Linked DNA regions of Homo sapiens: region 1 is linked to region 2. Evidence: fine-mapped expression QTL. A gene starts in region 2. The other region holds a variant in brackets. All regions are shown on one strand. Distances are from middle to middle. Region 1 has its middle 230 kb from the start of MIR548F3. Region 2 holds the start of TMEM232 (transmembrane protein 232).

What was found.
Region 1: its variant is fine-mapped to the expression of TMEM232 in thyroid (GTEx, PIP 0.96).

Annotation. Positions count from the first base shown.
Region 1 is chr5:110,277,552-110,290,403 of GRCh38, forward strand. No RefSeq gene overlaps it. Among named protein-coding and RNA genes, the nearest start is that of MIR548F3, 230 kb to the right of the region's middle. The variant G/T (reference allele first, on the strand shown) is at 5,052.
Region 2 is chr5:110,719,774-110,732,625 of GRCh38, forward strand. TMEM232 (transmembrane protein 232) reads right to left here and starts at 6,898. Exons shown (of 14, transcript NM_001039763.4): 1 at 6,854-6,898.

The DNA of each region.
Region 1 (12,852 bases), 440 kb before region 2:
GGGATTACAATTCTACACGAGATCTGGGCATGGACACAGATCCAAACCGTATCAATGAGCTACACATCATTCATGTCAGTAAAATTTACAATAAGGTTACATTTATATGTTTTTATATATTACGTCAATATATACATTTATATTGTGTGTACGCACATTTTCCTCCCTGAAGACTCAGTCATTAAACGTTTACCAGCAAACTGCTGCACTCATCTCTCACTACAGCCAGGTGTAACTCCCAGCACTATTCTGAATGTTCTCTTACATCTCTCTCACCTCCTTGCCGTTTCTTCTCCCTCCTCTCCTTTTCCCGCCCAACCTTTGCTTGCACACATCTTATTTCTTACAAACTCACCTCAGCTGTCATGTTCTTCAGGAATTGTTTCCTGGTCGTTTTCACCCTTAGCTTCCCAGAATGAGTTAGGTGTCCTTCCTATATGCCCCCACAGATGCCTTGGGGGCTAACTGCTATTCTGGTTTTCAGGTTTAGTATTGACTCGCTTTTTGTTACGGTTTTATTGTTGGCCCTCTATATCTGTAGGTCCTGCATCTACAAATTCAACCAACTCTAGATAAAAAATATACATTTTTTAAATAATAAAAAGTAACAATGAAAGAATAAAAATATAACAATTATTTACATGGCATTTGCCTTGTATTTGAAGCATTATAAATAATGTAGAGATAATTTATAGAGGAACTTCAGTATCTGTGCATTTGGGTATGGGGGGGGTGGGCAGTGTCCCGGAACCAATACCTTGGGGATACTGAGGAATGGCTGTAATACATTTAAATATATATTTAAAAAAGAATGCTTTGAAATTTATGTAAACTATAAGATATTTATGTATTCTTCTAAATCTTGCTTTCTACTCAACATTTTGTGTCTGAGATTCATCCATATTGAGACCTATAGCTACAGCACATTTATTTTCACTTCAGACTGGCATATCATTGTATGATATACCACAATTCATCCATTCTCTGCCTACAGACACTTAAGGATGTTCCCATAAGTTTGTCACTATTGAAAGCATTTAACTATTAGAAGCATGAACATTATGACGTGTATTTCCTAGTTGTCTTTTATTTATTTATTTATTTATTTATTTATTTATTTATTATTATTATACTTTAAGTTTTAGGGTACATGTGCACAATGTGCAGGTTAGTAACATATGTATACATGTGCCATGCTGGTGTGCTGCACCCATTAACTCCTCATTTAGCATTAGGTATATCTCCTAATGCTATCCCTCCCCCCTCCCCATACCCCACAACAGTCCCCAGAGTGTGATGTTCCCCTTCCTGTGTCCATGTGTCCTCATTGTTCAATTCCCACCTATGAGTGAGAACATGCGGTGTTTGGTTTTTTGTCCTTGCGATAGTTTGCTGAGAATGATGGTTTCCAGTTTCATCCATCTCCCTACAAAGGACATGAACTCATCCTTTTTTATGGCTGCATAGTATTCCATGGTGTATATGTGCCACATTTTCTTAATCCAGTCTATTGTTGTTGGACATTTAGGTTGGTTCCAAGTCTTTGCTATTGTGAATAGTGCCGCTACAAACATACATGTGCATGTGTCTTTATAGCAGCATCATTTATAATCCTTTGGGTTTATACCCAGGAATGGGATGGCTGGGTCAAATGGTATTTCTAGTTCTAGATCCCTGAGGAATCGCCACACTGTCTTCCACAATGGTTGAACTAGTTTACAGTCCCACCAACAGTGTAAAAGTGTTCCTATTTCTCCACATCTTCTCCAGCACCTGTTGTTTCCTGACTTTTTAATGATCACCATTCTAACTGGTGTGAGATGGTATCTCATTGTGGTTTTGATTTGCATTTCTCTGATGGCCAGTGATGATGAACATTTTTTCATGTGTTTTTTGGCTGCATAAATGTCTTCTTTTGAGAAGTGTCTGTTCATATCCTTCACCCACTTCTTGATGGGGTTGTTTGTTTTTTTCTTGTAAATTTGTCTGAGTTCATTGTAGATTCTGGATATTAGCCGTTTGTCAGATGAGTAGGTTTCTCCCATTTTGTAGGTTGCCTGTTCACTCTGATGGTAGTATCTTTTGCTGTGCAGAAGCTCTTTAGTTTAATTAGATCCCATTTGTCAATTTTGTCTTTTGTTGCCATTGTTTTTGGTGTTTTAGACACAAAGTCCTTGCCCATGCCTATATCCTGAATGGTATTGCCTACGTTTTCTTCTAGGGTTTTTATGGTTTCAGGTCTAACATGTAAGTCTTTAATCCATCTTGATTTAATTTTTGTGTAAGGTGTAAGGAAGGGATCCAGTTTCAGCTTTCTACATATGGCTAGCCAGTTTTCCCAGCACCATTTATTAAATAGGGAATCCTTTCCCCATTGCTTGTTTTTGTCAGGTTTGTCAAAGATCAGATAGTTGTAGATATGCGGCATTATTTCTGAGGGCTCTGTTCTGTTCCATTGATCTATATCTCTGTTTTGGTACCAGTACCCTGCTGTTTTGGTTACTGTAGCCTTGTAGTATAGTTTGAAGTCAGGTAGCGTGATGCCTCCAGCTTTGTTCTTTTGGCTGAGGATTCACTTGGCAATGCGGGCTCTTTTTTGGTTCCATATGAACTTTAAAGTAGTTTTTTCCAATTCTGTGAAGAAAGTCATTGGTAGCTTGATGGGGATGGCATTGAATCTATAAATTACCTTGGGCAGTATGGCCATTTTCACGATATTGATCTTCCTATCCGTGAGCATGGAATGTTCTTCCATTTGTTTATATCCTTTTATTTCATTGAGCAGTGGTTTGTAGTTCTCCTTGAAGAGGTCCTTCACGTCCCTTGTAAGTTGGATTCCTAGGTATGTTATTCTCTTTGAAGCAATTGTGAATGGGAGTTCACTCATGATTTGGCTCTCTGTTTGTCTGTTATTGGTGTATACGAATGCTTGTGATATTTGCACATTGATTTTGTATCCTGAGACTTTGCTGAAGTTGCTTATCAGCTTGAGGAGATTTTGGGCTGAGACGATGGAGTTTTCTAGATACACAGTCATGTCATCTGCAAACAGGGACAATTTGACTTCCTCATTTCCTAACTGAATACTTTTATTTCCTTCTTCTGCCTGATTTCCCTGGCCAGAACTTCCAACACTATGTTGAACAGGAGTGGTGAGAGAGGGCCTCCCTGTCTTGTGCCAGTTTTCAAAGGGAATGCTTCCAGTTTTTGCCCATTCAGTATGATATTGGCTGTGGGTTTGTCATAGATAGCTCTTGTTATTTTTGAAATACGTCCCATCAATACCTAATTTATTGAAAGTTTTTAGCATGAAGGGTTGTTGAATTTTGTCAAGGCCTTTTCTGCATCTATTGAGATAATCATGTGGTTTTTGTCTTTGGTTCTGTTTATATGCTGGATTATGTTTATTGATTTGAATATGTTGAACCAGCCTTGCATTCCAGGGATGAAGCCCACTTGATCATGGTGGATAAGCTTTTTGATGTGCTGCTGGATTCGATTTGCCAGTATTTTACTGAGGATTTTTGCATCGATGTTCATCAAAGATATTGGTCTAAAATTCTCTTTTTTTGTTGTGCCCTGCCCGGCTTTGGTATCAGGATGATGCTGGCCTCATAAAATGAGTTAGGGAGGATTCCCCCTTTTTCTGTTGATTGGAATAGTTTCAGAAAGAATGGTACCAGCTCCTCTTTGTACCTCTGGTAGAATTCGGCTGTGAATCCATCTGGTCCTGGACTTTGGTTGGTAAGCTATTAATTATTGCCTCAATTTCAGACCCTGTTATTGGTCTATTCAGAGATTCAACTTCTTCCTGGTTTAGTCTTGGGAGGATGTGTGTGTCGAGGAATTTATCCATTTCTTCTAGATTTTCTAGTTTATTTGCGTAGAGGTGTTTATAGTATTCTCTGATGGTAGTTTTTATTTCTGTGGGTTCAGTGGTGATATCCCCTTTATCATTGTTTATTGGGTCTATTTGATTCTTCTCTCTTTTCTTTATTAGTCTTGTTAGTGGTCTATCAATTTTGTTGATCTTTTCAAAAAACCAGTTCCTGGATTCATTAATCTTTTGAAGGGTTTTTTGTGTCTCTATTTCCTTCAGTTCTGCTCTGATCTTAGTTATTTCTTGCCTTCTGCTAGCTTTTGAATGTGTTTGCTCTTGCTTTTCTAGCTCTTTTAATTGTGATGTTAGGGTGTCAATTTTGGATCTTTCCTGCTTTCTTTTGTGGGCATTTAGTGCTATAAATTTCCCTCTACACACTGCTTTGAATGAGTCCCAGAGATTCTGGTATGTTGTGTCTTTGTTCTCGTTGGCTTCAAAGAACATCTTTATTTCTGCCTTCATTTCATTATTTACCCAGTAGTCATTCAGGAGCAGGTTGTTCAGTTTCCATGTAGTTGAGCGGTTTTGAGTGAGATTCTTAATCCTGATTTCTAGTTTCATTGCACTGTGGTCTGAGAGATAGTTTGTTATAATTTCTGTTCTTTTACATTTTGAGGAGTGCTTTACTTCCAGCTATGTGGTCAGTTGTGGAGTAGGTGTGGTGTGGTGCTGAAAAGAATGTATATTCTGTTGATTTGGGGTGGAGAGTTCTGTAGATGTCTATTAGGTCCCTTGGTGCAGAGCTGTGTTCAATTCCTGGGTATCCTTGTTAACTTTCTGTCTCATTGATCTGTCTAATGTTGACAGTGAGGTGTTAAAGTCTCCCATTATTATTGTGTGGGAGTCTAAGTCTCTTTGTAGGTCACTAAGGACTTGCTTTATGAATCTGGGTGCTCCTGTATTGGGTGCATATATATTTAGGATAGTTAGCTCTTCTTGTAGAATTGATCCCTTTACCATTATGTAATGGCCTTCTTTGTCTCTTTTGATCTTTGTTGGTTTAAAGTCTGTTTTATCGGAGACTAGGATTGCAGCCCCTGACTTTTTTTGTTTTCCATTTGCTTGGTAGATCTTCCTCCATCCTTTTATGTTTAGCCTATGTGTGTCTCCGCACATGAGATGGGTTTCCTGAATACAGCACACTGATGGGTCTTGACTCTTTATCCAATTT[G/T]CCAGTCTGTGTCTTTTAATTGGAGCATTTAGTCCATTTACATTTAAAGTTAATATTGTTATGTGTGAATTTGATCCTGTCATTATGATGTTAGCTGGTTATTTTGCTCATTAGTTGATGCAGTTTCTTCCTAGCCTTGGTGGTCTTTACAATTTGGCATGATTTTGCTGTGGCTGGTACCGGTTGTTCCTTTCCATGTTTAGCGCTTCCTTCAGGAGCTCTTTTAGGGCAGGCCTGGTGGTGAGACAATCTCTCAGCATTTGCTTGTCTGTAAAGTATTTTATTTCTCCTTCACTTATGAAGCTTAGTTTGGCTGGATATGAAATTCTGGTTTGAAAATTCTTTTCTTTAAGAATGTTGAATATTGGCCCCCACTCTCTTCTGGCTTGTAGGGTTTCTGTCGAGAGATCCGCTGTTAGTCTGATGGGCTTCCCTTTGTGGGTAACCCGACCTTTCTCTCTGGCTGCCCTCAACATTTTTTCCTTCATTTCAACTTTGGTGAATCTGACAATTATGTGTCTTGGAGTTGCTTTTCTCGAGGAGTATCTTTGTGGTGTTCTCTGTATTTCCTGAATCTGAATGCTGACCTGCCTTGCTAGATTGGAGAAGTTCTCCTGGATAATATCCTGCAGAGTGTTTTCCAACTTGATTCCATTCTCCCCGTCACTTTCAGGTACACCAATCAGACGTAGATTTGGTCTTTTCACATAGTCCCATATTTCTTGGAGGCTTTGTTCATTTCTTTTTATTCTTTTTTCTCTAAACGTCTCTTCTCACTTCATTTCATTCATTTCATCTTCCATCACTGATACCCTTTCTTCCAGTTGATAGCATCAGCTACTGAGGCTTCTGCATTCATCACATAGCTCTCATGCCTTGGTTTTCAGCTCCATCAGGTCCTTTAAGGACTTCTCTGCATTCGTTATTCTAGTTATCCATTCATCTAATTTTTTTTCAAAGCTTTTAACTTCTTTGCCATTGGTTCAAATTTCCTCCTGTAGCTCGGAGTAGTTTGATCTTCTGAAGCCTTCTTCTCTCAACTCGTCAAAGTCATTCTCCATCCAGCTTTGTTCCATTGCTGGTGAGAAACTGCATTCCTTTGGAGGAGGAGAGGCGCTCTGATTTTTAGAGTTACCAGTTTTTCTGCTCTGTTTTTTTCCCATCTTTGTGGTTTTATCTACCTTTGGTCTTTGATGATGGTGACGTACAGATTGGTTTTTGGTGTGGATGTCCTTTCTGTTCGTTAGTTTTCCTTCTAACAGACAGGACTTTCAGCTGCAGGTTTGTTGGAGTTTGCTAGAGGTCCACTCCAGATGCTGTTTGCCTGGGTATCAGCAGTGGTGGCTGCAGAACAGCAGATATTGGTGAACTGCAGATGCTGCTGTCTGATCATTCTTCTGGAAGTTTTGTCTCAGAGGAGTACCCAGCTGTGTGAGGTGTCAGTCTGCCCCTACTGGGGGGTGCCTCCCTGTTAGGCTACTTGGGAATCAGGGATCCACTTGAGGCAGTCTGCCCGTTCTCAGATCTCAAGCTGCGTGCTGGGAGAACCACTACTCTCTTCAAAGCTGTTAGAGAGGCACATTTAAGTCTGCAGAGGTTACTGCTGTGTTTTTGTTTGTCTGTGCCCTGCCCCCAGAGGTGGAACCTACAGAGGCAGGCCGGTCTCCTTGAGCTGTGGTGGGGTCCACCCAGTTCGAGCTTCCCGGCTGCTTTGTTTACCTAATCAAACAACTAACTTGGCAATGGCAGGTGCCCCTCCCCCAGCCTCGCTGCTGCCTTGCAGTTTGATCTCAGACTGCTGTGCTGGCAATGAGCGAGACTCTGTGGGTGTAGGACCCTCCAAGCCATGTGCAGGATATAATCTCCTGGTGTGCCATTTTTTAAGGCTGTTGGAAAAGTGCCGTATTAGGGTCGGAGTGACCCGATTTTCTAGGTGCTATCTGTCACTGCTTTCTTTGACTAGTAAAGGGAATTCCCTGACCCCTTGCACTTCCCGAGTGAGGCGATGCATGGCCCTGCTTCAGCTCGTGCACGGTGCACTGCACCCACTGTCCTGCACCTACTGTCTGTCACTCCCTAGTTAGATGAACTCGGTACCTTAGTTGGAAATGCAGAAATCACCCATCTTCTGCGCCGCTCATGCTGGGAGCTGTAGACTGGAGCTGTTCCTATTTGGCCATCTTGGCTCCTCCCCTAAAAGTTTTAAAAAGCTTTGCTTTTCCCCTTAAAGTCAAATCTAATTTTGGATGACAAATTCTTTCCCCAGTTCCATTGATAATATTGTCTATTCGTTCCACCCTGATTCATCATGCATCATGTTTCAATATATGCGTGGATCTACTTCAGGACTCTATTCTGGTGCACTGGTTTTATCTATATCTGTGCTAATACCATGTTATCTTAATCCTAATAATTTTTTTGAAAATCATGATATCTAGAAAGGAGAGTTTCCCTGCCTTATTCTTTTTCTGGAGTGTCTCAGTTATTTTGGACCATTTTTTATTCTATGTCCGTTTAAAATAAACTTGTCAAGTTTAATAAAATACCTGGTTGACAACTGATAGGGCTTGCATTTAATCTTTATCATAATTTTAGGAAAAGTGACATCTTTACATTATTGAATCTTCCTCTACATGGATATAAACCTCCGTTCTCTCCCCACTGCCCCTCCTCTCTGTTTCTTTATCTCTCTCATTTAGGCTTTCACTAATGTCTTCTAATAAACTTTAATAATTTTCCCCATTAAGAACTTGTAAATTTTGTTGGATTTCCACCAAGAAATATTATATCATTGTGGCTACTATAAGTAATATCTTTTTAATTTTATATTTTTAACTATTTGTGTGTGCATGTCAGCATGTGGGTTGTATTAGATCAGATAGTGATAGCTGCTCAAACAAAAAAACACCAAAGCAGTATAAGGCCTCAAATTCATTTCCTGCTCACATGACAGTATTTGGCAGGTGATCAGGATGGAAAAAGGCACTCCTTCATCCATTTCCTGGGACTCATGCTCAGTGAGATTCTGTTATCTTTGAAACATAGTTTTCCAAGTTGCCCTGAGGGATTGAATCCATTGCATCTTGACTAAGGGAAAACAGTTTGGAGGACACTGCTTCAGGCATGATAGGTCTTGGGTGCACATAGTGTTCACCGCTTCTGTTTTATCGCAGTGGACAGCACTTGGACACTGGGCCATGTTAACTGCTTGTAATAGTCCATTTTCACACTGCTGATAAAGACATACCTGAGACTGGGCAATTTATTAAAGAAAGAGGTTTAATGGACTTACAGTTCCACATGGCTGGGGTTGCCTCACAATCATGGTGGAAGTCAAGGAGGAGTAAGTCATGTCTCACATGGATGGCAACGGGCAAAGAGAGCTTGTGCAGGCAAACTCCCCTTTTTAAAACCATCAAATCTCAAGAGACTCATTCACTATCATGAGAACAGTGCAGGAAAGACCCGCCTTCCCATAATTCAATCACCTCCCGCCAGGTTTCTCCCACGACATGCAGGAATTGTGAGAGTTACAATTCAAGATGAGATTTGGGTGGGGAAACAGCCAAAACATATCACTGCTGAATGAGGGCAGGGTCAGAAATGCAGTTGAGGCCTGGAAAGCCAAATTCCAGAGATAACTCTGCATCCATGAAGTGAGGACATGCAATTCTGGTGGACAGCTACCTGTCCTTGACAAAGTCTACCCCACTGGCTTCCAAATATACTGTTGCACTTTGTGCCCACATATAGACCACTCTCCTCCTCATAAGCCTAAAATGGTTACCCCATCCAGCTCAAAGCCTACAATATCTGGGTGTTGTACTGTGCCATATGTTAGGTTTAAAGAGGCTTCATGTCCAGCAACTCAGGATCTAAAAGACAATGCCTGTCTTGAGAGGGACGCTGGGGTGCTCCATTTGGACCTCCATTCCTGATTCTAGAATGTGCTACCCCCAGCACTAGGTGTGCTGATCTCTGACAGGTATTAGCTGCCTTCTCCAACATCATGATGCCCTCTCAGGTCTAGTGACTGTTCACTGTGGGACAAAAAGACCCAGTTTTGTCAATCCACCTCAGGATAGTACTAAAGGCACATTCCATCTTTATGTTTGGAGCTCTCCATGGGGTAGCTGAAACTTGCACTGAGGCTGTATCACAGACCTACTTCTCCATCTTCTTAGTCCTATTTTTTTGGCTTCTCTTCACAGATGTTCACAAGAACATTCTCTTGCAAACCCCCTGCTATTAATCTCTGTGATACAGTTTGCTTCTTGCTTCCTGTGACATTACCAAATAGCAGAATCAGGATTTAATTAAAGAACTTGTTCTACTGTTAGATAAGGGACCTCAGAAGGCTTGTTCTGATAGTTACTTCATTGCCACAGATTAATGTCTCTGGCGTATTTCTCATTCTTCCCTCTTCTAGATGGACCTGTTCACTGCTATTATCCACTTCCCATTGTACCATTGTTTTCTGGGCTGTCTTTGATAGAGGTGGGTGAGGGTGTGACCATAAAGCATTAGCAGGAGGAAATTTCTGTGGGGTAAAGAAATTTCTGTCCTATTTTCTCGTTATGGTGGTAGTTACATGAATGTATCCATGTGATAATATTTCATAAACCCTAAATTAATTAAAAGAAAGATTATGTAAAAATTTGTGAAATCTTAATAAGGTCTATTGTTTAGTTAATAGCATTATGTCAAATATACTTCCTTGTTTTGATCATTTTATTATAGTTACATAAAATGTTATTTGCAGAAGCTGGGTGAAGGGTACACAGGAGCTCTTGGGGATATTTTTTGAAACCTATACATGAGACTGGAATTATTTCAGAATCAAACTTTTTTTAAATCTTATTCATTGTTTTTAAACTTAGGTTCATGGTGGACGTTACTTAAATAATGAGGGAGAAAACCATCTATTTCCACACTCTTGGTTTGTATAAAAGGAGCCTGAGACTGATGGAATGAAAGAGGCTACTGACTTCATTTCTCTCAGTCAGTTGCCACCAGGGGATATTTACTACATGTAAAGCATTACACTACACTTCACTTCTAGTTCTTGAGCAGCTGGGACTGTTAAGCCTCCCATAGACTAGATTTTCTATTTCTGAACTTCCCAGAGATTACAGATTTGGGGACACTGACAAATGGAAGATAGCTATAGGAGAGACCAGTGCTGCTCCCAAAGAGCTTATAGTTTCATCTGGGAAGCAGAAGAGGCCAAATGAAAGGATTTGGCCCTCCCAGGTATCACATGAAATAACTGTAAATGAGTAGATAAGTAAATAAGCAAAAAGGCAGTGAAAGTGGTGAGGAGGAAATATGAGGAAAGGACAGAATTCTAACCAAATTAATTCTAACACTTCAATGAGGCCGGTTTAGTTTTGTGGTAGAATAAGAAATGGTTGAAAATTCTTTGATATTCTTCCCATTGAGGGGTTGGGTCTCTTTCCTGTCCCCTTGATCCGGGTTGGTTTGTGACTTCTTTGACCAGGGAGATACAGTGGAAATGGTGTTATGCTCTTTCTAGGCTAGTCTTTAAGATGACTGGGCAGTTTCTTGCTCTTTTGAAACCAAAAATCTCCTTATTACAAGTTCAAATATTCTGTGGAACAGACTACATGCGAAGTAGAGGCGTCGAGTAGAGCCCAGCTTTCAGATGCCCTGCCGAGGTGTCACAGATATGGCAGAAGCTGCTTTCGACTCTCAAGATAGTCCAGCTACCAGCTGGGGACTACCTAGTGACCCAGTCAACAACTGAGGCCAGGAGAAATGCCCTGCTGAGTTCTTCCTAAACTCCTGACTCATGAAAGTGTGAGATGGTTTTGATCAGGAAATAAAAGACATGAAATAAATGATTTATTGCAGAGATTAGGTGTTATAATACTCTAAGAAACCTGGGGAAGCATAAGTCTGGAAGGGATGATTGGATGATCAGAGAAACTAATCAGGGACCACAAAGGGAAAGAAGTCTAAGAAAAGCTCTTGCTTCTGCTACTGGAGCAGGCTGTAATCACTGCGGTTACAGGATAGGCAATGGGGAAGACAAGCTGGATGTAGGCCAGGGACATAGGAACCTGCAGGGACAAATGGAATCCACAAGGACAAACTGGAACCCACGTTAGCCTCTCCCTACATCTCGCCTTGATGATGGGGAATATTGCTGGAGGATCTGAGGCCTTTTGCTGTAGAGCTGCATATGAGCCTGGAAATAAATGAAAGGAGATTAGGTGGGAGTCAAAGGGCTGCAGGCCCAATTTTCTGCTGAGTAATGCAACAAGGTGGGTTATGAAATCAGCAGCAGTGTGTAAGAGCTTTAGAGGCTCCTCCTGGGAATAACGGCTGCTGGTACACCCAAACCTCCTAATCCTATACAGATGTCCCCTGTGGCCAATCCTAACATGAACCACACAGAGAAGGGAGCTCCGAGAAGTGTAGTTCCAGCTTAGCTAAACCACAAACACCAGTTTCATATGTGAGTAATCTACTTACTATTTAGAGGCTTTAATGATGATCAGAATCAGGCTTTATGGACTTTTTGGAGGGATTGAATGACTTGGGAACACCAGAGCCTCATGTGTTTTAAGATTTAATAAACGTGAAATCAAGAGAAGCAAAGTGAATGGGTTGCTCATGGATGTTTTAATAAGCCAGAAGTATAAACAGGAATGAAAACTGAGATCCTTGGCTTTGCTTCCAGCTCCTTTCTTGACAGCAAGTTGAGGAAATTTTAAATTCATTCATCTCACTTTGTGTCTTCCTTCAGAAGCTCAGAGTTATGTAAATGGCTTCCTTTTGTGAGAGGAAGGCTTGTTGCATTAGCTATTTCCTCCTGTCAGGATTGAAAGTCACATCATTAGCAGATAACATCATTTTCATTTCTCCTCAGGGGACCTGATGGGTTGGAACTTTAGCAGAAACAGTCAGTGGAGACCATAACCTGCGATTTGGGTTAAATGTGACATAATACCTTAAGTACTCAACCCCTTCACACCAAAGCAGCTTTATCAAAGATACAAGGTTGTTCATGGCTTTCTAGGATTTAGTGTGATCTCAGAATCTTGAACACTTCACACTTCCTTTGAGGGAAAACGAGCTTTTCTCTCTTGTTGTTTTCATGTCTAATGAATGTGTTTTTCTTGGGAGGCTTTGATGGCAGGTTATTTCTCACCCAGAGCTACACTTTAATGTGTTATCTGTGGAGTGCAACTAGTAGAGCTTTACAGTGCTATTAAGTTAGGTAGGCCTGGGAGCTACTGCAGCAAAGGAAGGCTGAAATCTTTTCATTTTATTATTAAAGAGTCCCCATTGGAAAGGGAAATGGGGAATAAGCTTTACTTGGTCTACGGTCTTATGAGGGAAGGAGAGAAGAAGGTTTCCTGTTTGCATTCTGCCATTACGGGATTTTAAATAATATACTATACAAAGGTGATTACAGTTAATTTTAGGCTTTATGAGAACTTAGCTACCAGGGTTCAGTCTCTCTAGAGAGGCTGGGTTGCAGAGAGAACAAGAAAAATTGCTGGTTTCAGAATGAGGGAAAAATAACAACATAAAGAAACCTCCCCATTTTGTTCTTAATGCTTTGGGAGTGGACTCCAACCAGTGGGATGGCCAAAACAGATTTTCAGTTTGAAGGATTTCTGAGCTCCTACAGGTTAAGGAGCACCTAGACTAACAGCACTATTGGGAATTCAATTTAGAGTTTTATGTAAGGCAATATCCACTTCTCATGGGTATAAATATTTTTTATCTACACATAGGGGTTGGCTCTTGGGATTAAAACAAAGTCACC
Region 2 (12,852 bases):
TGGCAAGGCTCTCTTTGTCTTTTTCTCTACTCTCTCTGTTAAACTGTGTGCCTCATTCTGTGTTACATGCCAGCCCATTAGCCTCCAGTAATTATCAACTAATTACTCTATTGTTTTAAAAAATGCTCTAGAGTATAAATTGCTCAGCAGTCTGATCCAATTAAATTCAGGCAGAGACAGTTTTAAGGGCTCTTCTTACTTGTCCCTTGTTCTGGTTCTCGCTGGTGAACTAGATGTCCTGAAGTTCAGCTTGTTGCTCTTAATTTAGAGAAGAAATTATTTTCAAGAGCAGCATTAGGCTTGAACCTTATGTTTCAAATAAAGTTAGTTTCTTTGGGGAGGATTTCAGAGTTTTTTCTTACAGACTGCCTTTTCCCCTGGGCAGTCTCCAAGCCACTATTCTAGGAGCTGAGCAGAGCAGTAGCTTCCAGTCTTCTTGGCTTGCCTCTTCTCTTGTGAAACCTCTCCCCTATAATAAGTTGCAACGAGGGAAATTAGGGTATCAATATTCTTGTCTTGCTGAACCTAATATAAAGCCTCTTTCTTATGCATGAAGAAGACTGGGTGAAGTAAGGGAGCCCCCAGCCTCTCAGCCACAATCACCAGGAAATTAGTCTTTTAAATTTGAGTTGAAGGGGATTAGAAATGCTGGCAGACTGCCCCTACTAATAAGATACAGTAACCCTTGATTGGAAGCTTAGGGGAGAGGGAGTCCCATCATCTTGGCCACATCTGCACAAAGTTCAGCTTACCTTATGTTGCACTTGAGGGGAAGATGGCATGAGTCATGACTCAAGTGGAAATCTCTGTAATAGTTCATTGTTTAAGAGTTATTTTGATGCCAGCCTTCAGGATTTTTTTCCCATTTTACTACATTCACTTTTGTCCAAATCAACATTTGGCCTAACTTCTCATATAGAATACCTTGCCTTCAAGTAAATTTATTCCAAATTACTTCAGATAAAATCATACGCTTTCTGGACTAGAAGCTTGACTGAGTGCTTTGTGCTATATTATGCTTCTTTCTATTAATATACCACTCCACGTTAACACATGCTCAACTGTTGATGCACTGTCATTTATAAAAGTCTTTCAGATGAGTTCTAAAAATAAATATAAGAGAAAATTAAATTTTAAACTGGAAAAAATAGGTAAGAACAAAATAGGGTAAGAAAGTGAGATATAGTGAGATGAACATACAAAATCTATGCCACAAATTCATATATACTCACTTGCTAAAGGTATAGTATACATTCATCTTAAAATAATGCTGAAAGCCACAATTTACTGCTTAAAAACAAACTAGTTGCAGGGGAAAAAGTTATTCCCGGTAAAGTTATAAGACAATTTTTCTAAAGCCATCATAAAGAAGATAGGATATAATGTAATGAATAACCTCCTGAATGTAAAAATAATAAACAGTTTCATGGGGCAGTCTTTTACACTCAATATAAATATATGACATTACAACAAACATTGATAGATTTTGTGTGACACCAATAAAATGTAGCCCTGGCATTCAGCTTTCTAATAGTCTGGCTGCTACAGAAACAAGCTTTTTGTGCGTCTTTTAAGAAGTGGTTCTATCATGGGCAATACTACCTTCTAGGTAACATCTAGAAATGCATGGATGTGCTTCTGTTTGTCATAATGTCTAGGGTTCTGATAACGGACATTCAGTGCCCAGGGTCCAGGGTTGCTAAATATATTCCTCAATTCCGAGAGAGTACCTCATAAGTAAGAACTGTTGTTCTCAAGATAACAGTATCACAACCTCTCCTGCCTTGAGAAATACTGATCTAGAATTTTGAATTTCAAGCTATGCTCCACAGAAATGACTCATAAGCTATCATATGTGTGAGATGTGTGAGTCTGCATATCATGTGTGTGTGTGTGTGTGTATATATATATCTGTGTGTGTTAGTGTTTGGGAAGTAAGAGGGGGTGCGTCTGCCTCCCTAGACTGACCAGAGCAGCTCCATTTTTACCTGTTTTGTATATTAGACATCCGAATAAGAAAGACATAGTTTAAACAAGAAGGAAAAATATAAATTTATTCATCAGAATCCCAGGGTGGCTTAGAAAAAGGAATCTTAGAAGAAGCAGCTATGGGAGAGAAGCAGAAGCACATCCATGCATTTATGTTGCCTAGCAGGTGGCACTGCCCCTGATAGTTAGAATCACTTCTTAAAACACATAAAAATATTATTTCTGCAGCAGCCAAACCATTAGAGTGCTGAATTCCAGGGCAGTATTTTATTGATATCACATAAAACATTGTCAGGGGTTGGAGGTTAAGTGGGAGGCTGCAGAAGATAGAGATGTGGTAGGGTGGAAATGGAAGACAGAATGAGAGAAGAAAGGACATGGCAGAAATAAAGTTCTTACAATGAAATCACCTTTTCCCCTATATCTTTAGAAAAATAAACTCACAAAAGGCTTGGCTGTTGTATTAATTATCTAATTTGTATAACAAATCACTCCAAAACTCACTGCCATTTATTATCTCTCACAGTTCCTCTGGGTTAGGAATTTGTTAGTGGCATGGCTGGGTATAACTGGCTCATGGTTTCTCATGAAGTTGCAGTCAAATGGCAGCTGCAGGTTCAGTCAGTCAGTCAGCTAGTCATCTAAGTTCAGTCAGTCCTGTCCTCTAAAGAGTTGACTAGGATTGTAGGATCCACTTCCAGGGTGGTTTGTTCACTACACGGCTGTCAAGTAAACACTGGCTGTTGTAGCAGGCCTCAGTTCCTCTTCATGTGGACGTCTCCTCAGAGCTTCCTGTGTGCTCTCATGGAGGCTGGCTTCCCCCAGAGAGAACAATCCAAGAAACCAAGATGAAAGCTTAAATGCCTTTATACCTAGCCTTGCAAAGCCTGTATCATTACTTTACTGCCACCACATTTTATTGGTCATACAGAAGGGCCATGATTCAATGTGAGTAGGAGCTACAAAAGGGTGTGAATGTCAAGAGGCAAAGATTATTGGGAGCATCTTAGAGGCTGGCTACCACAGCCATAGTACTTTTTATATGCTTGTTTGTGTATCTGTCTGTATGTTAGTGGAAGTGAACAAATCCAGGAGCAGAAGTAGACACAGAGTTAATTCTTTGTATTTACTGTTGAATTCAATTTTCTAATATTTTGTTGAGGCTATTTGGATATATTTTCATGAGAGAGACTGGTCTGTAGTTTTCTTTTCTTATAATGTCCTTGTCTTATTTTGGCATTAGGGTAATGCTGGCCTGAAAGAATGAGTTAGGAAGTATTTCCTCTGCTTCTATCTTCTGAAAGAAACTTGCAGATAATTGATATAATTTCTTCCTTAAATGTTTGGTAAAATTCACCAGTGAACCTATCTGGGCCTGGTACTTTCTGTTTTGGAAGGCTATTAATTATTGATTCCATTTCTTTAATAGTTATAGGTCTATTCAGATTATCTATTTTCTCCTTTGTGAGTTTTGGCAGTGGTTATTGTTTTTAATTGAAATTCCTTTAAGGCATTAGACCAGTTGACACATAACCTGAAGTCTATGTGTTCAATCAGAAACATACCTCAAATGTAAGAGACAGGTGGGGCTGTGTGCTTTCCTGTTTGGCAAAATATCTATTATATTTTTGTATCAATGTAATAGAGTTCAAATATAATAAATCATGGCTACTTCTTGGCTAGTACATTGATCACAAGTTGTTTATATTTGGGGGCCTACTGAGATTATTATCCATGGGTACCATTATGTTTAAATTAGACTCTAAATGAGTATCCTGAAAATCTCAAAATCTGTATAGACTGTTAGCTATTAGCAAAGCATTACTTCTGTTTACACAACTCTCCCTATATACATTATCATCTATACTCCTAGGGACTGCTATATCTCTTGGTACCACTAGCTTCCTATCCAATATTCACTCTTCCATTGTTTTATTAAAGCAACCCTAATTTTGTTTGGAGCAGCAAAGTCTCTGGCTAAAAAACATTTCTCCTGAAGCTTTCTTTGCAACTATGAGTTCTAGCTAAAGCTTAGTAGGGGATGTTGGTAAAGTTTACTTTCATGATAGAGGCACAGTACCTTCTTCCTTGTCCCTTCCCAATTTCTTTTACCTCCCTGGATGATAGACATAAGAATGGTGATAGAGCAGTCACCTTGCTATCAAGAGATGACCAGGAAGATGAAAACCACATACAAAGATGATGGGACACAAAGACAGAAGCCTGGAACATTTATGGCATTAGAGATGAACCACAGTCAAGTTGTTGGAGACGAGTTTCTGTTATATTCCATCAAATACAATCCTAGGATATCTCACACCTTCCTGAAAACCCTAGTTCAAACCTATTTCTTCAGTAAGCCTTCTGGGATGTAATAATAATAACTCTTGCATGGGACTTTATTGTTTGCAAAGTACTTTCACATACTTTATATCTTTCGATATTCACATCAGTCCTGTGGCCAGAATACCCTTCTCTTCATATTCTCACCTCTCTGGAGTTGATGCCATCCATCCCTATACTGTAAACCACACTGTAGAACAATGACTCCCAAGCAGCTGCCTCCAATCTTGACCTCTCTTGAGCTCTAGATTTGTTTTCCAACTGAATTCTGGGCACCCAGCTCAAAGACGAGTACTTGAAACATCTAAACTGTGTATAACTTAACCTGTTATTTTCTCATTTCAGGTCCCTAAACACTGCTCTTAATCCAGTATTATTTTAATAAATCTCAGTTAATATAATCACTCAAACTGACAAGCTAGAAATTTCAGAGTTATCCTCAATTCCATGCTCTCTATAACTTCCCAAAACAATCAGGAATCAAATCCTAGATCACGGCCACTGCCATGAGATTAGGTTCTCATCATTTTTCTGGTGGACTACTGTTAAGATCATTTAACTGGCCTTCTGCAGAAAGGCATCCTAAAAGATAAATCAACTATTTTTATTTATTCATTCACCAAATAGTTAAATGACTAGTCTTCTGCAGAAAGGAACTCTAAAAAAGAAATCAATTATCTTTTATTTATTCATTCACCAGATAGGTATAGAGCACCTGCTACATAATAAATATTATAATGTTAAAAATATGGTTTCAACAAAAAAACTTGCCATGTTATAGTAAGAAGCTAGTAATCCTAAAGTCGATATAGATTTAGCAAGTGATTTATTATATTACTGTTGAAAACGCAATGAAAGTAATAGGAATAAAATAATTTACTAAGGTGGTATATTTTTTAAAGAGATTTGTTTTCTTTGGTATTGTAATGAATCAGCAGGAAACATTTTAAAGAAATGAATTCATTTGGTTTTATGGAAATATAAGCAAAAATAAAAAGTGTGATATATAGTTTAGAACATTAATTTCTAAAATACATTCTGTAAAATACTGCTTCTTGGGATGAAACTACCTCGAAAAGCTTTCTGTTGTGAAATGTTTGAGAAACCACTGGATTAGACAAAAATAAGTAGGTTTGCATATACTAAGATTTCTCAGTGTTAATATTCTCATATATACTCTACATCTCTCTGAGTAGCAGTGTGACATGTAGTACTTTAAAATTTATTGACTAAAGAAATCTTTAGAACATCATCTCCTAGAACTACATACAGGACACATTTTGGAAAATGTTAAGCATTTGTGAGCAGACACTTTACCAGGAGCTCTGGATGGACAATGAACTTCAAGACAGGAACATTTATCAAATTTATCATAACAATGAATGATTCTGATAATGAATCAGACGTTCAGCAAGAATATAGCACTACTCATTAAGATCATAAGGGTCCATGCAGAATAGGTCTTAGTGAAATAAAAATCTGCTACCTTCAATCAAGTATGTATGTGGATTACCCAAACCAAGAATGTTTATACTTTAAAGAGAAATGTTTCAGCTCATGAAATGGCTCCAGCAGTCTGCCTGGGTGCTTGGCAGTTCATCTGCAACCTGGCACAGACCCAGATTTCTTTTTTTAGTTTTACTATTAATTCTTCATGTATTTTTTTAAAGTTCCAATAAAAATGAGGTTGAAACTGTATACTTTAAAAGACAATTTCTGAAAAACAGATAATATTAAAATTATATCAAGACTTTGGAAAGGTAACATGCATTAGAGAATATAAGATTTAGACTCTAACCTGAGGAAGCAAATTATTTGACCAACCAAATGATAGAATTTGTTCAGACATACTGTTAAGATGGTAAGGTAAATAAGAGACTCTTACTACAGTCTTATCCCCTCCTAGAAATTTTTCTAATAGACAACTTGGATATTTTTCTCAAGATTAACGGCTTTTAAAAATTGTTTTATTACACATCTCCAATATACCCCCCTCTCTCTTTCACACACACACACACACACACACACACACACAGAGCGCCAAATTTTTGAACCTTCTCTTTTGAAGTCCAAGAGTCTTCATACTAAATAAATAATAAATAAATAAAAATCAAAAAGGTGCAATTTCACCAACCACAGAGGATGTGTGAAGACTGGTCTTCTGAATTCAAGGTTGCCCCAGGATAAGCGAGTCCAGGGGAGATTAAATGAATTTCCCTATTCATAGCAATAAGAAAGTTCCCACCTCCTTTATTCTCCCCAACAAAAAAGCTTCCCCTATCAAACGACCTGGTGGCTTTTCCAGGATGGACTGCTTAGACTCTTAGGAGGGGCCCAGATAGCAGGCCCAGCCTGGGGTTGCGAGTAGTGTTTCTTCTAACAAAGCTATGGCACCCTGAGAAAGGAGGCTCAGTATTCCCCTGTGAGGATCTTTGTGGGTCTTTCAGTTGCCCTAGGATGGTGAATATGACAATAACCTGAGCTCCCAAATCATCTGAAGCAGGACCTCTTAATCACTCACCGCTGCGCTCTGAGCCGCTGGGAACCAAGGCTGGTTGCTAAGGACGCTGTGGGAGTCGCTCTGAGACAGACGTTGCTCTTTTACGGTCTCGTGACCAGGGCTTAGCCAATCAGGACTTATAAGTGAATTTCCACCTGCCCTGTCCCGTCTCCACCACATTTGTGTTCAATTTCTAAAGAATAAATGCAATGTTGTGTGAAAGACCTTTATTCGTTTTTAAAGAACATAGTAATGATTTGTTTCGAATATTGTACATACTTGCATATCCTGCAAGAAGCCACGGCAAGAAGCGGCTTCACAGTGCTTTAATGTCTCCTCAGTGTCTTAATGCTGCTTCCCCAAAACAAACCAGCACGCCTATCATACCAAAAGTAGCTATGTCTTTAAATTAAATTGCCGTTCGTAAGTTCCTTTTACATAGAAAATTTGGAGCAGTCAGTGTCCTCAGCACCCGTCAGTGAGTAAACAAAGCACCTAGAATGTTCTGCTATGTACTAAACACCAGAGGGCGAATTTAAACACAAAAGAACGCCTCTTTTTAAAGGTAGTATGCAATAGAATTATCTAATATAAGTCCTTTAAAAATCCTTGTAGAATTCCTATGTCTACTAACGAGCAACTGTATATATTTTACAAAGGTTCACCAGTGTAAAATACTATATGGAAGAATGGGGAAGGGCATTTATGATTAAATTCATACGTAGGCCGGGCGCAGTGGCTCATGCCTGTTATCCCAGCACTTTGGGAGGCCAAGGTGGGCGGATCACGAGGTCAGGAGTTCGAGACCATCCTGGCTAACATGGTGAAACCCGTCTCTACTAAAAATACAAAAGTTAGCCAGGCGTGGTGGCACCCACCTATAATCCCAGCTACTCAGGAGGCTGAGGCAGGAGAATTGCTTGAACCCAGGAGATGGAGGTTGCAGTGAGCCGAGATCATGCCACTGCACCCCAGCCTGGGAAACAGAGCGAGATTCCATCTAAAGAAAAAAAAAATACTAAAACGTAATATACAGGGATTGTCCTGTGAAATGACCTGCCTTTAAAAATTAGAACTTTGAAAGAAAATTTAACTTGAACTACTTCGATTCGGAATTAAGTTTTTTTGTTTTTTGAGTGCATTTTTATGTTTAAAACAGAAATTACAATATGTGATCTCAGGCTTCTCTGACGTATCACTCCTAGAAGATCAGTAAGTTAAAGGTAATAATGAAAAGTGAAATTGACAAAGACTATAAACTACATATGTGAGAGAACAAATCCTAGAATATCAACAGTGCTTACCATAATCCAGATAAAATAAAAATGAAAAGACTGTGGTATTTAATAATAGCCTGGGGGCTTGCTTGTTTTAATTTCAAGAGATCTAGAAAAGTGTTAAAAGCATAAAAAAATACAAACTGTTAACCAGGTTATTCATAATCAAATGAAGATTGAATTAAAAAGGAATAAAAGGAAGGCCGAATAAAAAATTCTTCTCCATAATATAAGAATCAGTTGAAACTATAGCATGTTTAGAGAAAAAAAGTCACCCCATCGATTCTACAGTGAAGACAACAGAACAAGTTTATATAAGGAAGAATTCACAAATACATATATATATATATTACACATATCTACTTATTCTAAATATATCTACTGATTTTATATATGTATCTACTGATTTTATTTATATATATATCAGTAGAATGAAAGATTACAGAAAAAGCATAAAATTTATATATGATAAATTTGCCATTTTAACTCAGTGGGGAAAAACTGTACAGAGGCTGAGCACAATTTGAAAGAAAATAAATCTGAACTACTATCTCATACCATAGCAACAATAAATCTCAGAGGAATGAAGCTTAAAACAGGAAATAATTTTAAATAATTTTAAGATAATATTGGTATAACCTTAGAGTCACAATAATATTAAGCTAATAGGAGACCCACAATGATTTTAAAAAATGACAAGAATATTTAGAAAATTTATGTAAGAAAAATAAATCTAATAAAGTCATACCTCCCCTTTCTCCCTTTAATTAGTCATCTACATTGAAGTTTTGACAAGACAAATCTAATTTTTTCAAATTATTATATATATACCTATATATATATAATCCTAAAATGGCCATTAATTAGCAATTAGGAAAATAAGCATGTCAAAACCATCCTAACCCCTTAGTATGGCACAATTATGCTTTCAGAAACTATATCATTGCCTACTTGCCCAGTTTTTTTCTGCTTTTTTTTTTTTTACCAGTCTTTTTTATTTTATTTTATTATTATTTTTTGAGATGAAGTCTCGCTTTTGTCCCCCAGGCTGGAGTGCAATGGAGCGATCTCAGCTCATTGCAACCTCCACCTCCTGGGTTCAAGCGATTCTCCTGCCTCAGCCTCCCGAGTACCTGGGATTACAGGCGCCTGCCACCACGCCTGGGTAATTTTTGTATTTTTGGTAGAGACAGGGTTTCACCATGTTGGCCAGGCTGATCTCGAACTCCTGACCTCAGGTAATCCACCCACCTTGGCATCCCAAAGTGCTGGGATTAAAGGCGTGAGCCACCGTGCCTGGCCCAGTCTTCTTTATTTTTAAAACTTTTTCCACTGCTATGTAATCAATTAAAAAATATTTTAAGTTTCCTAAACATATCATGAGCTCTCGTTTCTTAATAACCTCATGCATGCTCTTCCTCTGTCTGAAAATATACTTGCCCACTCACTCCTCAACTGCTGCCACAAACTCACACAAACGCATACCACCCCCTGCTCCCTAATAACCACACACCAGGTAAATGCTTACTCTTGATCAAGACTCGGATGTTAGACATTTGTCAACATTTTGGATCTGGAGAATCCAATCACCCTTCCATGCTACCTGGGGAATTCTTCATGTAATATGAATGGGAAGTGGTGTTTCATCATCCACTACAAAAGCCAAAAACGGCAGATTATATTTTCTCAGAACTCTGTGTTGGAATATGACAGAAGTTTGGCCAAGTATGTGTTCTAGTTTAAGAATTTGAATTTTTAGCAGATAATATCAAGATGAAAGTAGCAATAACTGTGCCTTGGGCCATGATAGCAGCACCCTTACAGATTTTCCTGCCAAAAGACAGTTGTGGTACCTCCTGCTTCTTGGTCCTCTAGAACAGCATTTTTTTTTCCTGTCCATTTCAATCCTTGACTTACAGCCTTCCATCAATTCTATAAACCCTGATTATCCTGTCAAATCTTCTGTTTAAAGTAACAAATTGAGTTTCTGTTATCTTCAACCAAAGTGACACATTCACCTGGGAAGACACCTCATTTTAGAAGCCTTCCAACGCAATGACTGTTCTCTCAGGATAACTTAGAAGACATCCTTCAATGTTTCCTTAGCATTCTGAGTGCTCTTATATAGCACTTATCAAAATTTTACCTAGAGAAATCTACCTAGTGAGTACTCATTAAAAAGTCAGGAAAGAGATGAAACTATTAGTAAGTTACACAATTTAAAATATGCATTATATTTTCTTCAATCATATTTCTCAAACCTTAAGCTTCAGTCCTCCAGTTGCTTGGAATCAAGGCTATTAGCATCTTCACTGACACGATTCAAATTAGTCCATAATACTGCAATTACCTTCCTAGATTAGAATTGATTTTCCAGGGAAAACAATCTGACACCAAAAGTGAATCATAGGAAAAAACTATAGCCATGAAAAAATATTTATCAGTTTGAACTGTTGCATTAGAATTAATATTGATTTTGTAATTTAACAACTTTCTAGATGACAATTTCTTAACTATTTTTGATATTATGTGATATCAGTTTAGTTTTGCCATGGAGTGTATAACTTAATTGTAAATAATTTCTATTTGATACTGTATTAGTTTGTTTTCATGCTGCTGATAAGTACATACCCAAAACTGGGAACAAAATGAGGTTTAATTGGACTTACAGTTCCACATGGCTAGGGAGGCCTCAGAATCATGGCGGGAGGTGAAAGGCACTTCTTACATGGTGAAAGCAAGATAAAAATGAGGAGGAAGTAAAAGCAGAAACCCCTGATAAACCCATTAGATCTTGTGAGACTTATTCACCATCACGAGAATAGCACAGGAAAGACTGGCCCCCATGATTCAATTACCTCCCCCAGGTCCCTCCTACAATACACGGGAATTCTGGGAGATATAATTCAAGTTAAGATTTGGGTGGAGACACAGCCAAACCAGATCATTCTGCCCCTGGCCCCTCCAAATCTCATGTCCTCACATTTAAAAACCAATCACGCCTTCCCAACAGTACCCTAAAGTCTTAACTCATTTCAGCATTAACCGAAATGTCCACAGTCCAAAGTCTCATCTGCAACAAGCCAAGTCCCTTATGCCTATGAGCCTGTAAAATCAAAAGCAAGCTAGTTACTTCCTAGATACAAAGGGGGTTCAGGTATTGGGTAAATACAGCCATTCCAAATGGAAGAAATTGGCCAAAACAAAGGGGTTACAGGGCCCATGCAAGTCTGAAATCCACTGGGGCAGTCAAATTTTAAAGCTCCAAAATGATCTCCTTTGATGCCAGGTCTCACCTCCAGGTCATGGTCTTCGGCAGCTCCACCCCTGTGGCTGTGCAGGTTATAGCCTCCCTCCTGGCTGCTTTCATGGGCTAGCATTGAATGTCTGCAGCTTCTCCAGGTGCACAGTGCAAGCTGTTGGTGGACCTAACATTCTGGGGTCTGGAGGATGGTGGCCCTCTTCTCATAGCTCCAATAGTCAGTACCCCAGTAGGGACTCTGTGTGGGGGCTCTTGCCCCACCTTTCCCTTCCACACTGCCCTAGCAGGGGTTCTCCATGAGGGCCCCACCCCTGCAGCAGACTTTTGCCTGGGCACCCAGGTGTTTCCATACATCTTCGGAAATCTAGGCAGAGGTTGCCAAACCTCAATTCTTGACTTCTGTGCACCTGCAGGCTCAACACCACATGGAAGCTGCTAAGGCTTAGGGTTTCCACCCTCTGAAGCCACAGCCCAAGCTCTACACTGGCCCCTTTCAGCCATGGCCGGAGCAGCTGGGACACAGGACACCAAGTCCCTAGGCTGCACACAGCATGGGGACTCTGGGGCCAGCCCACAAAACCACTTTTTCCTCCTGGGCCTCTAGGCCTGTGATGGAAGGATGCCATGAAAGTCTCCAACATGGCCTGGAGACATTTTCCCCATGGTCTTGGGGATTAACATTAGGCTCCTTGCTTCCTATGCAAATTTCTGTGGCCAGCTTGAATTTCTCCTCAAAAAATAGGTTTTTCTTTTCTACTGCATCATCAGGCTGCAAATTTTCTGAACTTTTATGCTCTGTTTCCCTTTTAAAATTGAATGCTTTTAACAGCACCCAAGTCACCTTTTGAATGCCTCGCTGCTTAGAAATTTCTTCCACTAGATACTGTAAATCATCTCTCTCAAGTTCAAAGTTCCACAAATCTCTAGGGCAAAGGCAAAATGCCACTAGTCTCTTTGCTGAAATATAACAAGAGTCACCTTTGTCCCAATTCCGAAGAAGTTCCTCATATTCATCTGAGACCACCTCAGCCTGGACCTTATTATTCATATCATTATCAGCATTTTGTCAAAGCCACTGACAAGTCTCTAAGAGGTTCCAAACTTTCCCATATTTTCCTGTCTTCTTCTGAGCCCTCCAAACTATTCCAACTTCTGCCTATTACCCAGTTCCAAAGTCGCTTCCACATTTTTGGTTATCTTTTCAGCAACGTCCTACTCTATTGGTACCAACTCACTGTATTAGCGCATTTTCATGCTGCTGATAAAGACATACCCAAAACTGGGAACAAAAAGAGGTTTAATTGGACTTACAGTTCCACATGGCTGCAGAGGCCTCAGAATCATGGCAGGAGGTGAAAGGCACTTCTTACATGACAGTGGCAAGAGAAAAATGAGGAATAAGAAAAAGCGGAAACCCCTGATAAGCCCATCAGATTTTGTGAGACTTATTCACTATCAAGAGAATAGCATGGGAACGACCA